Homo sapiens: one gene and its partner. The protein of the gene in region 1 purifies or fractionates together with the protein of each later gene. This does not show direct contact. Each region holds a gene or a part of one and is shown on either strand. Other genes may lie near its edges.

Region 1 (3,500 bases):
AGAAAGTAAACTGGCACTCAGCAAGAAGGCTGTCTTCATTTCTTCACTTATTACCACACTGGCAAGGAAACAGTTTCATAATGCTTACAGAAATGCTCACTGATAAGACAGTAAACTGCTCATTTCCAAAACACATAACAACTGACCACATCATGATTAGTGATTTTAGTTGCCAAAATCAACTCGTTTCTCGTCTTCCAGTTACCTAAGGGTATGAAGACAGATATGTCAAGTGAGAGACTGGCTCTTATCTCTAGACCCAGGCAAAAGGCAGCTAAAGGTTGAAGGTACCATCAGGCCTGGGACCCAGAGATAAAATTCAGAGTATTATTTTTGAAATGTTTTGTGGACAACTTGCCAGGATATACATGGGAAAAACTCGAGGGTAGAACAGGAGTGATAAGATGATCCACTTTAGATTTTGGAAAACAAAAAATATCAAGTTCCTGGGAGAAGGAACTATGGGTGAAGTTTTAAATCTCAGAGTGGTGGTTCTCAATCCTGGCTGCACACCAGAATCACTTGCACAGACTTTTTAAATTATGAATGCCCAGGACCCACGGGTTCAATCTAGGCTTAAAGAATCAGAAAAAGGCCAGGCACAGTGGCTTATGCCTGTAACCCCAGCACTTTGGGAGGCTAAGGTGGGAGGATCATTTGAAGCCAGGAATTTGAGACCAGCCTGGGCAACATGGTGAGACCCCCATCTCTACAAAAAAAAAAAAGATAATAAATTCCTAGGAAGGGGCCCCACACACCCCTATTTTTTTTTTTTTTAAGTTCCTCATGAGGTCAGGAGTTTGAGACCAGCCTGGCCAACATGGCGAAACCCATCTCTACTAAAAATACAAAAATTAGGCCGGTGTGGTGGTGGACACCTGCAATCCAGCTACTCAGGAGGCTGAGGCAGAAGAATTGCTTAAACCGGGAAGGCAGAGGTTAAAGTGAGCTGAGATCGCGCCACTGAACTCCAGCCTGGGTGACAGAGCAAGACTGTCTTGAGGGAAAAAAAAAAGTTCCTGAGGAGATTCTGATGCACAGCCACCACTGAGAACAACTGCCAAGAACTACTGTCAAGACACATTCCAAAATGGACAAGACCACTAAACTCAGGCTCCAGAGTCGACAAATAAATGACTTAAAAACTTAACCCAGCTTCTCAGTTGTTCCACATTTCCCTAATGGAAAGGTCTCCACCAAGTAGCAGTAGGTATATCTCAGCCTCCCCCCATTACCAAATTAAGGGCCACAAGTTTTTCACAGTTAAATTACTTGGCATCTTCATTTCTAGCTCTAGTTCTAACAGGTGGCTCGGCCTAGAGGTCAGAATACCAGTCAGCAAGTTTCTGCTGCTGATTCATGCTGTAATCACAAGCAAGTTGCTTACCCATCATCCAGAGTAGTTGACAAGCACCTCCAGAGGGGCAACATATGGCCTTACTACAGAATCAACTGACAACAAATTGAATCCAGCTGAAATTAGTAATTCTGAATGAAAGGAAGAGAGAGGTGGTATCAGGAATGATGCACATGCCAGTAAGTTATCTGCTTGCTAAGTGTGATTATACAAAGCTTATTGAAAAATACCGCCTAGGACTTCATAAAAATTTACTTGGACAAATCACTCTTAACACTGCTAAGCCTCTATTTTCTTTTCTGTGAAACAGGACTAATATTCTACCATACTTCCTCATAGAATCATGAGGATTAAGAAAGAAAACTTCTGTAAAATGCCTACCATAGTGGCTGACACACAGTTTTACTATGATTTGAAAGCCTATCATTAATAAATCCAAAGCGTTCCTGTCAAGAGCACCCACTAGACTTCCAATGAAGCCATATAAACCAAGGAATCCAGCCAACGGGCCCTGAAATTCTTTTAATTTCTCTAAGTGGTTTTACTGAAGGCTTCAAATCACCTCAATTTTCAAAGCCATTAAAATCTCCAGGTCCATTTACAGCTCAGAGGCATTCTTCAAGGCAGATTACCACTAGTAACCTGGTTTCTGGTACCAGAATAACAGGAAGAATGCCAGGGCAGTGCTTCATACCACCAACCTCAAAATAACTGCCTCATAATACCTGACCTTCCCTTAACCTCCCTGGCAGTTCTATCGGCCCAGGGGGATGGGACAAGAGCCTGGTTCCTGGCCAGAGTCCACTGCCTGCCCATAAACGGCCTACCTTCTCTCTTGCCTCTCTTTCTTTGCTCCCTCTAAATGACTTTCCCCACTTTCTAACCCACCTTCTCTCCTCTGAGCTATATTCACAGGATATTTACTGCTGCATGTTCTCAGAAATACCTATTAACACTACTGGAATGAAGCTGTAGGAATATAATCAAGAAAAGGAATGTTATATAAATGTTCAGGCAATTAGCCCAGGCAAAGAAACTGTGGTATGCGACTCTAGCCGGAAAGATCAAGAAAATCCTGGTAGCCAAATTTACATATTTCCTGTGTACAAATGAAGGGCAAATTTAAGCCAGCCACTGGAACAAAATCTCAAAGAAATTAATCATGTAGCTAGGAAGCAAATGGCCATTAATGACAGTTTACAGAATAGAAACCAAAGGGCTTTCTTCCACGAGGTAGAAAAGGGGGAGAAAAAAAGTGACTTAAATATTTGAATACTGAAAACTCTTGCTCTTTTCACCTTGACAAAAGATAAACTATCTTTTCACCTTACGCTTGTTTTCCCCTCAACTCAGTACTCTGTAATTCAAGAGGTCCTTTCAATGATTCCCAGCAGAATCAAGTATATGAAGTGTTCAGCTTATGAGATACTGCAGAAATCTTTTTATGGGATTATGCGGAGCTTGAGTGTACCCTTTTGTTAGAGCAACCATCTCATCGTGAAGTCACTGCATCAGAGCTCCTGAGTATCTGCTGTAGTAGCACTGGTCTTAGCTGTTACGTTCCTAAGGCAGCTTAGTTTCAACTTTAAAAATCAGCCAATATCCAGTTTCCTAACCTTTTAATCTCCACATATCCTGCCTTTTAATTTGTTCCTAAATGCAAGCAGTGGATTATGGCTAGTGAAGAAGCATGGATTTGGCTACAAAGCCCATCCTTCCTTGCTAAACGAACACGCACAGCAGAAGCCAGAAAAGCAGACACTGGCGGTGGCAAACATGGTCAAGCTTTCTAACACACACATTAAACAAAAAAAAAAGAATGCTGCCTCAAGGCACATATGTGTTATTTGTAAAATCTAACAAAGGGCCTTTACATGAGTTTTTGTTTTTTTAGACGGGCTGGAGTGCAATGGTGCAATCTTGGCTTACTGCAACCTCCGCCTCCCGGTTTCAAGGGATTCTCCTGCCTCAGCCCCCCGAGTAGCTGGGATTACAGGTGCGCACCACCACGCCGGACTAATTTTTTGTACTTTTAGTAGAGACGGGGCTTCACCATGTTGGCCAGGCTGGTCTCAAACTCCTGAACTCAGATGATCCACCTGCCTCGGCCTCCCAAAGTGCTGGGATTACAGGCGTGAGCCAC
Region 2 (3,500 bases), on another chromosome or scaffold:
ACTATTGAAGTCTACTATGAACACCTGTCTGCACACAAACTAAAAAACCTAATAGAAATACATAAATTTCTAGACAAATACATTCTCCAAAGACTGAACAAAAAAGAAACTAAATTCCTGAATAGACCAATAACAAATTCCAAAATTGAATAAGTAATAAATAGCCTACCATCCAAAATAAAGCCCAGGATTAGACAAATTTACAGCTGAATTCAACCAGACGTAAAACGAAGGGCCTGAACCATTCTACTAAAACTATTCCAAAATTGAGAAGAAGGGACTCCTCCTTAGCTCGTTATATAGAAACAGCAACATTCTGATGCCAAAACCTGGCAGAGATGAAACAAAAAATAGAAAACTTCAGGCCAATATTCCTGATAAACATTGATGAAAAAATCCTCAACAAAATGCTGGCAAACCAAATCCAGCAGCACATCAAGAAGCTACTCCACTATGATCAAGTAGGCTTTATCCCTGAGATGCAAGGTTGGTTCAACATGCAACAATTAATAAATGTTATTCATCACATAAAGAGAATTAAAGATAAAAACCAAAAAAATTATCTCAATAGATGCAGAAAAAGATTTCAATAAAATTTATCAGCCTTCATGTTTAAAATCCTCAACAAACTAGGCATTCAAAGTACACACTTCAAAATAATGAGTTATCTATGACAAGCCCAAAGTAAACATACTGAATGGATACAAGCTGAAAGCGTTTATCTTTGAAAACTGGCATATCGACTGGGCGCGGTGGCTCACGCCTGTAATCCTAGCACTTTGGGAGGCCGAGACGGGCGGATCACGAGGTCAGGAGATCGAGACCATCCTGGCTAACACGGTGAAACCCCGTCTCCAGTAAAAATACAAAAAATCAGCCGGGCGTAGTGGTGCGCGCCTGTAGTCGCCTGTAGTCCCAGCTACTCGGGAGGCTGAGGCAGGAGAATGGCGTGAACACGGGAGGCGGAGCTTGCAGTGAGCGGAGAAGATTGCACCACTGCACTCCAGCCTGGGCGACAGAGCGACTCTGTCTCAAAAAAAAAAAAAAAAAAGAAAGAAAACTGGCATACCTTCTCTCACCGCTCCTATTTAAGAGAATTGGAAGTCCTGGCCAGAGCAATCAGACAAGAGATAAAATGAAAGGCATTCAAACAGGAAGAAAGGAAGTCAAACTATCCCTGTTTGCAGATGACATAATTCTGTATCTAGAAAACCCTACAGTCTCTGCAGAAAAGCTCTTTAAACTGACAAATCACTTCAGCAAAATTTCAGAATACAAAATAAATGTATAAAAATTGGCAGAATCTCTGTATATTAACAACATGCAAGCCAAAAGCCAAATCAAAAACACAATCCCCTTCACAACTGACACACACACACACACACACACACACACACACACAAATATCTAGGAGTACACCTAACCAGAGAAGTGAAAGATCTCTATGTCAAGAATCACAAAACACTGCTTAAAGAGTCACAGACGGCCAGGCACGGTAGCTCATGCCTGTAATCTCAGCACTTTGGGAAGCCGAGCCGGGTGGGTCATTTGAGGTCAGGAGATCGAAACCAGCCTGGCCAACACAGTAAAACTCCATCTCTACTAAAAACACAAAAATTACCTGGGCATGGTGGTAGGCACCTGTAATCCCAGCTATTCAGGAGGCTGAGGCAGGAGAATAGCTTGAACCCAGGAGGCAGAGGTTGTGGTGAGCTAAGACTGTGCCATTGCACTCCATCCTGGGTGACAGAGTGAGACTCGGACTCAAAAAAAAAAAAAAAAAGAAAAAGAAAAAAAAAAAAAAAGTCCGAGATAACACAAATAAATGGAAAACTATTCTATGCTCATAGGTAGAAAAGATCAAAATGATTAAAATGGCCATAATGCCCAAAAAAAGAAATGATTTAATGCTATTCTTATCAAACTACCAAAAACATTCTTAACAGAACTATAGAAAACTATGTTAAAATTCATATGGAAGGAAAAAAGAGCCCGAGTAGCCAAGGCAATCCTAAGCAAAAAGAACAAAGCTGGAGGCGTTACATTACCTGACTTCAAACTATACAATAGGGCTACTGTAACCAAAGCCGCATAATACTGGTACAAGAAACAGACTCACAGACCAATGCAACAGAATAGAGAGCCCAGAAATAATGCCACACGCCTATAACCAACTGATCTTTGACAAAACTAACAAGAGGAATGTGGGAAGAATTCCCTATTTAATAAATGGTGCTGGGATAAACACCTAGCACTGTGTAGAAAATTGAAACTGGACCCCTTCCTTACATCATATACAAAAATCAACTCAAGATGAATTAAAGCCTTAAATGTAAAACTTAAAATTATAAAAAACCCTTCAAGATAACCTAGAAAATACCATTCTAGACATGGGAACTAACAAAGATTTTATGATGAAAATACCAAAAGTAATGGCAACAGCAACAATTGACAAATGGGACCTAATTAAACTAAATATCTTCTTCACAGCAATGGAAACCATCAACAGAGTAAACACAAAACCTATAGAATAAAATAAAATATTTCCAAACTATGCTTTTGACAAAGGTCTAATATCCAGAATCCATAAAAAACTTAAGTTTACAAGAAACAAACAAACGACCTCCTTAAAAGGTAGACAAAAGGTGGCTGGGCTCCGTGGCTTATGCCTGTAATCCCAGCACTCTCAGAGGCCAAGACAGGTGGATCACCTGAGGTCAGGAGTTTGAGATCAGCCTGGCCAACATGATGAAACCCTGTCTTTACTAAAAATACAAAAAATTAGCCACGTGTGGTGGTGGACACCTATAATTCCAGCTACTCAGGAGGCTGAGGCAGGAGAATCTCTTGAACCCAGGAGGCGGAGGTTGCAGTGAGCCGAGATCACACCATTGCACTCCAGCCTGGGAAACAAGAGCGAAACTGTCTCAAAAAAAAAAAAAAAAATAGACAAAAGGCTAGGAGTGGTGGCTCACGCCTGTAATCCCAGCACCTTGGGAGGCCAAGGAGGAAAGAGCACTTGAGGTCAGGAGTTTGAGACCAGCCTGGCCAACAAGGTTAAACCTTGTCTCTACTAAAAATACAAAAATTAGCAGGGCATGGTGGCAAGTCCCTGTAATTCCATCCACTCAGGAGGCTGAGGCAGGAGAATCGCTTGAACCCAGGAGGTGAAGATTGCCGTTTGCTGAGATTATGCCACTGCACTTTAGCCTGGGCGACAGAGTGAGACTTCGTCTCAATTATAAAAAAAAAGGTAGACAAAAAACATGAACAAATGTTTTTCAAAATAAGATATATATGTGGCTAACAAGCATATGAAAAAAATACTCATCACTAGAGAAATGCAAAGAAAAAACCACAACCAGATTCCATCTCACACCAGTCAAAATGGCTGTTATTACAAAGTCAAAAAATAACATGCTGGCAAGGTTTCAGAGAAACGGCTATGTGCTGCTGGCATGAGTGTAAATTAGTTCAACCATTGTGAAAAGCAGTGTGGC

The links. The genes of interacting proteins can lie anywhere in the genome.
Region 2: the proteins of RNF10 (region 1) and ZNF729 purify together in Homo sapiens (co-immunoprecipitation; one large-scale study listed by IntAct). This does not show direct contact.

The regions. Positions count from the first base shown.
Region 1 is NC_000012.12:120,537,356-120,540,855, reverse strand, and holds part of RNF10 (E3 ubiquitin-protein ligase RNF10), read right to left. Parts: intron 1-3,500. UniProt on the Homo sapiens protein: E3 ubiquitin-protein ligase that catalyzes monoubiquitination of 40S ribosomal proteins RPS2/us5 and RPS3/us3 in response to ribosome stalling.
Region 2 is NC_000019.10:22,292,941-22,296,440, reverse strand, and holds part of ZNF729 (zinc finger protein 729), read right to left. Parts: intron 1-3,500. UniProt on the Homo sapiens protein: May be involved in transcriptional regulation.